2 linked regions of the Homo sapiens genome follow. The protein of the gene in region 2 interacts with the protein of the main gene of each other region in a pairwise test. Each region holds a gene or a part of one and is shown on either strand. Other genes may lie near its edges.

Region 1 (4,668 bases), on a different chromosome or scaffold from region 2:
ATCAGCATATGATATTAGTAGTAGTATTCTCCTTTTCAGGCCAGTATAATGATAAATTCATTTGTGTAGATAGTCCACACAGTCCTAGGAAAGGATCCTGAGGTTGAATGTTGTAAGGAAGAGTAATTATAGGTGAAGTAAGTGTAGGCCTTTTGCCAAAGGGGAAAAAAAAAGCCCAAAAAGGCTAGCAGAAGGAGGTCTCAAATTTCAGAGCTTTGATGATACCATTTTACTAAAAGAAAAATTTTCCTTGGTTTTTAACAGCTAATATAATGCCTTCGTCGTCTCATCTCTTTGGCTCAATGCCATGGGGACCATCGGTGCCAGTTCCTGGGAAGCCCTTCCATCATACTTTATATTCTGGGACCATGCCCATGGCTGGGGGAATACCAGGGGGTGTGCACAATCAGTTTATACCTCTGCAGGTAAGAAAAATAATATTTTTAAGATAATTATTTGTTTAATGCTGAAAGACTATTGATAAACATTTTTTTATTCAGTTTACTTATTCAGTGCCAACTAGAAGTTCAGTACTAGTGTGGGTAGTAAGAAGGCAATGGTTGACAAGTCTGACCTGTCTCTGCTCTCTGAGTTTGTGTTCTAATAAACAATAATTGTACCAAGTAATATGCTATTCTAATACAGATTGATTAAAATCAGTAATATAAATAAAATCACAAATATTTTCAAAATAACCTATGAAGAATTGTATTTTTATTATTATTATTATTATTCATTTTTTTGGAGAAGGATCTCACTCTGTAGCCCAGGCTGGAACGCAGCCCATGCACAATCTCGACTCCCTGCAGCCTTGACTTCCTGGGCTCAAGTGATCCTCCCATCTTAGACTCCCGAGTACCTGAGGCTACAGGCATGTGCCACCATGCCTGTCTAGTTTTTGTAATTTTTTTGTAGAGATGGGGTTTTGCCATGGTCTCGAACCCTAGGTCTCTACCGATCCACCTGCCTCGGCCTCCCAAAGTGCTGATATTACAGTTGTGAGCCACTGCACACAGCCCAAGAATTTTAAATATTTTGTTTGTAACTAAGTCCTTTGAATTACTAAAGTCTTACTTGGCAATTATAAGTGGAAGTCACAGATCAGCTGTGATTGACAAATATTAACAGCATGCATGGTTTATGGTAATTTCCAACACTAGCTAATTTTTTGCCTACATTATTAATTAGTGATGCTTTTATTCCTAACAGGTTACTAAAAAAAGGGTTGCAAACAAAAAGAACTTTGAGAATAAGGAAGCCCAGAGTTCTCAAGCCACTCCAGTTCAGACTAGCCAGCCAGATTCTTCCAACATTGTCAAAGTAAGTCCACGGGAGAGCTCATCAGCTTCTTTGAAGTCCTCTCCGATTGCTCAACCTGCATCTTCTTTTCAAGTTGAAACTGCCTCTCAAGGCCATAGTATATCTCACCATAAGTCAACACCAATCTCTTCTTCAAGAAGAAAATCAAGAAAACTGGCTGTTAATTTTGGTGTTTCTAAACCTTCTGAGTAAATTTGGCTCTTAGAATTAAGTTAATTTCTTCTCTTTCCATCTACCTTTTTATAAATACATATCTATGTCTCATAAAAATTAGAATGTACTATTTTAAAATAATATGTGTAAATTGAAATTTTTTTCATTTTTAAGTTATCAGGCACTTTTCATGCTGTTTAAAAGACTGTGTATCAAATTGTGCACTTTAAGTATGTGCAGTTTGTTGTATGTCAATTATACCTCAATAAATCTGTAATAAAAAACTAAATTAAACCTTGCATTAAAATAATATCACAGTATCAGTGGACTAAACATTAAAATGTACCACTCTAATCATTGGCCTCATGATTGAAGCATCCTGAACTATGAATTAGACATCAGTTAGCAATAATAAGCATTTTTTACACTATCATTGAGGAATAATTACATGGAGCATGAAATTTGGGCCTCCAGTATAACTTACTGAATGTGGATTTTATTTCTCTTTTTAATGATGTAAGAAAATTGTCAGGAGAATGGCTCTTATTTATGTGTGTTTTAACTTATGCTTTGTTGCCTCTGAGGGTCTTTAGACCTGCTGTGAAAGGATCACATTTGTTGTGGTGCTGCCAGTTTTGCTTTATTCTAAATTTTGTACCAAAGCAACTTTAGAATAATCAGAATATTTCATCTAACTGCTTAGAACTATAAATAGCATTCTAAATTTGAGTAAATACAATTTTTTAGGTTACTCAAGAACCAGCATTAGTAATTTCTAGTAAAATTGTTTCAAAATCTACAGGGTACAATGATTACAAATTAATCTTCTAACAAAATAAAATATGAAATATTAGTCATGTTAATTAATAAACTGTATTATTTTGTATAGCTTTTTATTTGCTTACCTGACATTTTATGAGAGCTTCATAGTTGGTCGGTATGTAGTGCTTCTTGGGACTGAAGAAATTCTAATTGTTGTTTAAGTTCCAAGGTGTGCTACAATATAGGAGGCACAGTCATCAGTTTGTGACATACATTATTTACTGCCTATTTCATTCTGATTCTATATTTTTAGCTTTATGCTGAACTGTTCAATGATGCTGGGATTCTCTCTTTGCATGTCATATGTGAATGTGTGGTTCAAGCTGTAACTGTTGAAATTATTTTAGAATTTATGACGATTTCTCAGCAGGGCCTATGTTTATATATATATATATATTTATTCTTTAGTTTTTGTGATATGCTTATATTTTTAAGGAAGTAAGTTATAGCATACTTTTTTAAAAGTAGGAACCACAATCTTTATATGGAGCAGCTTGTTATATCTGATTTTCATGTAACTCATTGGAAACTCTGCCATGACTCTTAAAGTAGTCTTACTTGTTTTTTAAAATGCTGGTATTAAACTAAATGGACTCCTTTCACTAACTGCTGATTTCAGAGTTTAAATGTTAGCAGGATATTTGTGTATTAGCAGTGCCTTCAGTATAAGAGAGAAATATTCATTATCTGTCATTTATCATAGTCGTATAAGTTTCCATGATTTTATTTTCTGTTATTTTCATAAGTTCAGATGTTTATCAGTTCCCAACATTGTTTCTTTATCTGTAGTGGGATCTTGAGTAATGAGGCTCAAGTAAATCCTCAATGTGTATAATTATTGCCTCATAAACTCTCTCTTTGTTTTTAAAGGAAACATCTATTATGGTAATACAAAGAAAAGTTAAATTGTGACAGTAATGTTATATTAACCTCTTCCTACTTTAAAGTGTGAAATGTTTCACCTCAGCTGTACAAACTCCAGCATTGAGAATTTGCCTCACTCATTACTCCTGTGTGACAGTTATATAAATAGCATGCAGCTCACATCTGTTTTAGAGCATAGAAGAAGCGGCACCTGCCATCTTCTGAAAACTCCAAAGGGAAATTTCAGTAGACATAGTGCACTAAACCCATAAGGATACTTGACCAATATTTGAGCACAGCAAGCTGACAGTTCTATACAGATAGGCAGTGAAAGAGTTTTATTTTCCAGCCAGGCGCAGTGGCTCAAATCCCAGCACTTCGGGAGGCTAAGGCAGGCGGATCACTTGAGGTCCGGAGTTCCAGACAAGCCTGGCCAACATGATGAAGCCCTGTCTCTACTAAAAATACAAAAATTAGCCGGGCGTGATGGCACATGCCTTTAGTCCCAGCTACTCGGGAGGCTGAGGCATGAGAATCATTTGAACCCGCGAGGCAGAGTCTGCAGTGAGCCGAGATTGCACCACTGCACTCCAGCCTGGAGAGCAGAGCAAGACTCTGTCTCAAAAAAAAGAAAAAAGTTTTATTATCCTTACTTTTTTTTTAACATTATTATTCTAAAGGTCAAAACTGAGAAGAGATTAAGATAGGAGAGAGCTCCATAATGGCTGGATAGTGGTCAGGCATTCTCTATTCTTTTCCCCCTGTAGACCCATTCTAAATGTGGGCCTGAGGTCAATGGGAGATGTGCCCTCCCTATGGAGGATGTAAGAAGCAGAGGCCATTTCTGCCCCATGTTGAGGAAACAATCTGTTGATAGACCTGGAATTTAGAGTATATCTGAAAAGCAGTTGGACTTCAAGAAATTTAAAATTCTCTCTTTGAGATGGGGTGGACTAAGACCACCCCCAAAGTTTAAAAATATGCTCATTCAACTTGAATCTTCTGAGGACTTTTTGTGAAAATGGTGGACTGTTTAGGGCATAGGACAGATTCCCCAAATTGCTTTATGCTTCCACATAACTAGAGCACTTCAATCTATTTAAGCCTTTGTCTCCTAACTGAAACATTATTTCTAAATATTTCTATTCAATAAGTTTTTTCTTTTTTGAGCAACTTAAGTGAATTTTGAAGATTGCTCCTTCCAGTCTCGTTCCTTTTCACATTTTCCTGCATTACCTAATAATTACCTCAGCGTTAGAATTTGAATGTATTAATTGATTTAAACATCATGTAGACTAAAGTCTTAAACATCTAAGACTCAGTTGTAGTTGCAGAAAAAAATTAAAGTCACCTCTACTGAACCTTGGTTTCAATTTAAGATTTTTCTTGCTTTTCAAAGGGGTAACTAATAAAGATTGAAGGGTTTTTTTCCCGATTGGTGGAGGAATGAAGAACTATTGATGCAAGTTTTTTTATTGTTTCTTTCTATGATCAGGTACCTGCTTTCAT
Region 2 (4,109 bases):
TGTCTTTGAAGGGCAGCTGCCCAGCTATGAGATTGGAAGCTGTTTCCCAGCTAATGAAAGCCTGGATTTAGGGGTTGCTTAGAAAGAAAATAGTATTGATGTTCACTGCAAAGAAAGTCACTGTCTTTGTTCCCAGAAAGCTTGTGCTTTTTTAGATACGTGCTTTTCACAGACTCTAGGCAACTCAAAAACCAACTTCTCTTTCTCATTTTCCCACAAAAAGAGAAGTTACAGGTTTGTGTGACCACATGAGCAATATTGATTCCCAGCCATGTGAAGATTGGATAATGAAGTACACTCATACTTGTCACTTTTGCCAGCTGCTCCGAGTTGGGGATGTAGAGGTCCTCTAAGTAACACTGCTAGAGCAGGCCTATGGTCATGTGATTAACTCGTTTCAGCCTGCTGATCTCAGGCTGCTGAGAGCGCTGTGTAAGTTCAAAGAATCATTAAGTGGGACAAATACTATCTGTAGACAGGTCTGTTAAATCATTCCTTTACTCAGAGACAGCAAGTCCAGCATGGGTAGGTGCCATGAAGACAGATAAGAGTTATATGATACAGTCCCTGCCTTCACCAAATTATAAGCTGGGTAGGAAGCTATTGAGCAATGTGAAATAATTAGGAGATGATACCCAGTGTGTATAATTAAGCACCCGGGTACCAGGTGCAGTATGGATCAAAGGTTTGCAGGGACCATTAATCAAGTGAAGCTACAAGTGTTGGGAACCTTTCCTTGAAAGATGGACAAGAATTAAAGAGTATGGAGATGAGGCATCTAAGCTGAGTGAATTCCCTTTCCTCTGCACTCCCAGAGCTTTGAGTTGAGCCAGGGTGCCGCTCTGGCCTGTTGATTGGCAGCTCAGCTAATCATCCCTGGTTTTCCAGGCCTATCGCTGGATGATTGACTCCAGAGATGACTTCACAGAGGAGCGCCTGGCCAAGCTGCAGGACCCATTCTCTCTATACCGCTGCCACACCATCATGAACTGCACAAGGACCTGTCCTAAGGTACGTGGGGCTGGTGACCCTCAGCTCTGCCTCAGAGCTGACACGCCAGAAGTAGCATGTGCTCACAAAGAGGTGATTGGCAGAGAGCAACCCTAGTCATTTGAGAAGGAAAGGGACCAGCATATGCCTGTCCTTTCAGTGTGAGCCTAGGGGCTAGTTTGGCTCTTAGTTGCAAGGAGTAGACTGACTCGGGCCACCTCAGGAGCAGGCTTTATTTGTAGGCTACACAGGGACATTGTGGGAGTTAAGGATGCACAGGAACCCATGAGCAGGTACCTGCGTTCAACCTTCCCAGGAAACAGAAAGCGAAAGCCGTTGGAACGTGGGCAGCTGTGAGGACTTCATTTCTTCTCCATCTTTCTCGCGATGTCAGCTGCTAATCTGCTCTGCTCTCTAGCAGCCTGTTCTTTCCTTCGGCTCTGTGGAGGTTTTCTCTGACTCAAAGCTCTGGCTTTCGTTCCTCTTCCTGCTCGCATTTGCTGCTGCTTTTGGCTCACTCTGGCCTGGATTTTGCCTCCCAGCACACTTCCAGCTTCAGCCACCCGCCTGCCTCCCAGCACTTCTCAGCACAGTTTCCTGAGAGGGTGTCGCATTGGCCCAGCTCACCTTCTCATGCCTGCACATCAGAGGCCACAGCTGGCTACAGACCGGCTGCCCTTTGGCCAGGTTCTGTCTCAGTCTGTTTTGTGGTACTATCACAGAATTTCAGACTGGGTAATTTTATAAAGAAGTTTATTTGACGCACAGCTCTAGAGGCTGGCGCCAGCATCTAACAAGAACCTTCGTGCTGTATTACCCCATGGCAAAAGGCAGAAGGGCAAGAGAAAGGGAGCCCAAGCTCAGCCTTTTTTTTTTTTGGAGACAGAGTTTCGCTCTTGTTGCCCAGGCTGGAGTGCAATGGCACGATCGATCTCAGCTCACCACAACCTCCGCCTCCCAGGTTCAAGTGATTCTCCTGCATTCGCCTCCCGAGTAGCTGGGATTACAGGCAGGCACCACTCATGCCTGGCTAATTTTGTATTTTTAGTAGAGATAGGGTTTCTCTATGTTGGTCAGGCTGGTCTCGAACTCCCGACCTCAGGTGATCCACCCACCTTGGCCTCCCAAAGTGCTGGGATTACAGGCGTGAGCCACCGCGACCGGCCCCTCTCATCTGTTTTTTTTAAAAGACAGGGTCTCACTGTGTTGCCCAGGCTGGGGTGCAGTGGCGCAATCATAGCTCACTGCAGCCTGGAACTGCTGGCCTTAAGTGATCCTCCTACCTCCTGAGTAGCTGGGACTACAGGCACACACCACCACACCTGACTAATCCAAACTCATCCTTTTATCAGGAACTTACTCCTATGATAATGGCAATCCATTTGTGAGGGCAGAGCCTTCATAATCTAATCACTTCTTAAAGGTCCCACCTCTCAATACTGTTGCATTGGGGATTAGGTTTTCAACACATGAGCTTTTGGGGACACATTCAAACCATAGCAGGTGTCAGCCCTGGTCCAGTCAGCCTTGCCCAGTGGGCAGGGAAGGGCTAGGGCTGTGTGGTTCAGAACACGGCTGCCCTCCGAGCAAAGACTGTGGGTGATTTCACTCAAAAGTTGCAGTGAGTCAGTGGGCGGCAAGGTGGAAAACTGTAGGGTGGCCAGTTAGCCGTAAAAAAAGATCACACTGTGTGTTTGAAAACATGAAATCCAAGCTGTAGAATTCACTTATTTTTTGCCTGGAAACCCTCTGTGTTTCCAGTGGCCTCGCTGGGGGAGCCCACAGGCTTCAGCTCCCTATTGCCTGGGCTTCCATCTGGGTCCTGTCCCCAGGACTGTGGTTTACCATGATTGTGCCTGTGAATAGCTACTGACCTCTGAGGCAAGTTATGCTATAAAAGTGCTTGGAACAGTGCCTGGCACATAGTAAGCACCCAATAAATGTCACCTTATGTTATTTTTTAAAAAAACATGAGTACTGGGCTTGTTTGAGACAGAGATAGCATCTTCAGTGGTGGGGCCTGGCTGTGTGTTTCTTCAGAAGCTCTGCGAGTGACTCTAAGGTGCATTCCTGGTCACAAACCTGTGCATGGAGGGGATGGGTGCAGCAGACAACTGAGACAGCCAAGAACAGGTTCTCTGTGCCTTGCCCTCCCTTCTGTAAAACAGGGCTGGAAGTTGGGACTGAGACATAGACATAGGCCGATCATGAAACTGGAAGGGACTTGAAAACCATCAAGTTTAATCCCCTTATACAGATGGGGAAATTGAGCCCCAGGTGGGGAGGGGAGTGACTCGCCCCAGATCACTGTCAGGTCAGTGGGAAGGTAGGACTAGAGTTAGGCCGTCTGCCTCCCCATCCAGTGCTCTTTCTTCCTGCATGGATTGGGTATGTACCAACCTTCTAAGTCTAAACACCCTTACTGACCCTGTGGGGACCGGAAATACACAGGTAGATCCAGATTCAGAAGGATATACAGTGAAAATTCTCCCTCCCACTCCACCCAGCCACCTCCCTAGAAGTCAGATTCTTGTGTGAACTTCAGAGGTGTTTTATGCTGCACACAAATGCATATGTGTCCTCTTCTGTCTTTCTTATATCACATTTATCTGTATTTTTTCACCCACTATATTTTGGAGATTATCCCATGTTGGTATATGAAGAGTGTCTTTTTGACCAGCCTGGACAACATAGTGAGATCCCATCTCTACAAACAAAATTTTTTTTAATTAGCCAGGTGTGGTGGCACGCACCTGTAGTTTCAGTTACTTGAGAGGCTGAGGCCGGAGGATCACTTGAGCCAGGTGTTCCAGGCCACAGTGAACTATGATCACACTTCAGCCTGGATGACAGAGCAAGACCCTGTCAAAAAAATATATATTTTTTCTTTCTCTTCTTCTCTCAAGATCTCTTTTCTTTCTTTCCTTTTCTTCTTTCTTTCCACAACACTTTTTTAGGGGGGTAGACTTATCCTTCTAAAATGAGGGGAACCTTCACTAACGTCAGATGAGTACTTGTCTCATTTTACCAAGTACTTGCTTGGTAAAAGCAAGTACTTGGTAAAGTACTTCCTACTTTCTACTTCAATGAAGCTGGCATTCAGTGGGTTTAATTATTGT

Evidence for each region. The genes of interacting proteins can lie anywhere in the genome.
Region 1: the proteins of SDHB (region 2) and XRN1 interact in a two-hybrid assay, tested with the Homo sapiens proteins (one large-scale study listed by BioGRID).

What each region holds. Positions count from the first base shown.
Region 1 is NC_000003.12:142,308,355-142,313,022, reverse strand, and holds part of XRN1 (5'-3' exoribonuclease 1), read left to right. Parts: intron 1-264; coding exon 265-425; intron 426-1,209; coding exon 1,210-1,512; 3' UTR 1,513-4,668. UniProt on the Homo sapiens protein: Major 5'-3' exoribonuclease involved in mRNA decay. Required for the 5'-3'-processing of the G4 tetraplex-containing DNA and RNA substrates. The kinetic of hydrolysis is faster for G4 RNA tetraplex than for G4 DNA tetraplex and monomeric RNA tetraplex.
Region 2 is NC_000001.11:17,019,510-17,023,618, reverse strand, and holds part of SDHB (succinate dehydrogenase [ubiquinone] iron-sulfur subunit, mitochondrial isoform 1 precursor), read left to right. Parts: intron 1-888; coding exon 889-1,011; intron 1,012-4,109. UniProt on the Homo sapiens protein: Iron-sulfur protein (IP) subunit of the succinate dehydrogenase complex (mitochondrial respiratory chain complex II), responsible for transferring electrons from succinate to ubiquinone (coenzyme Q).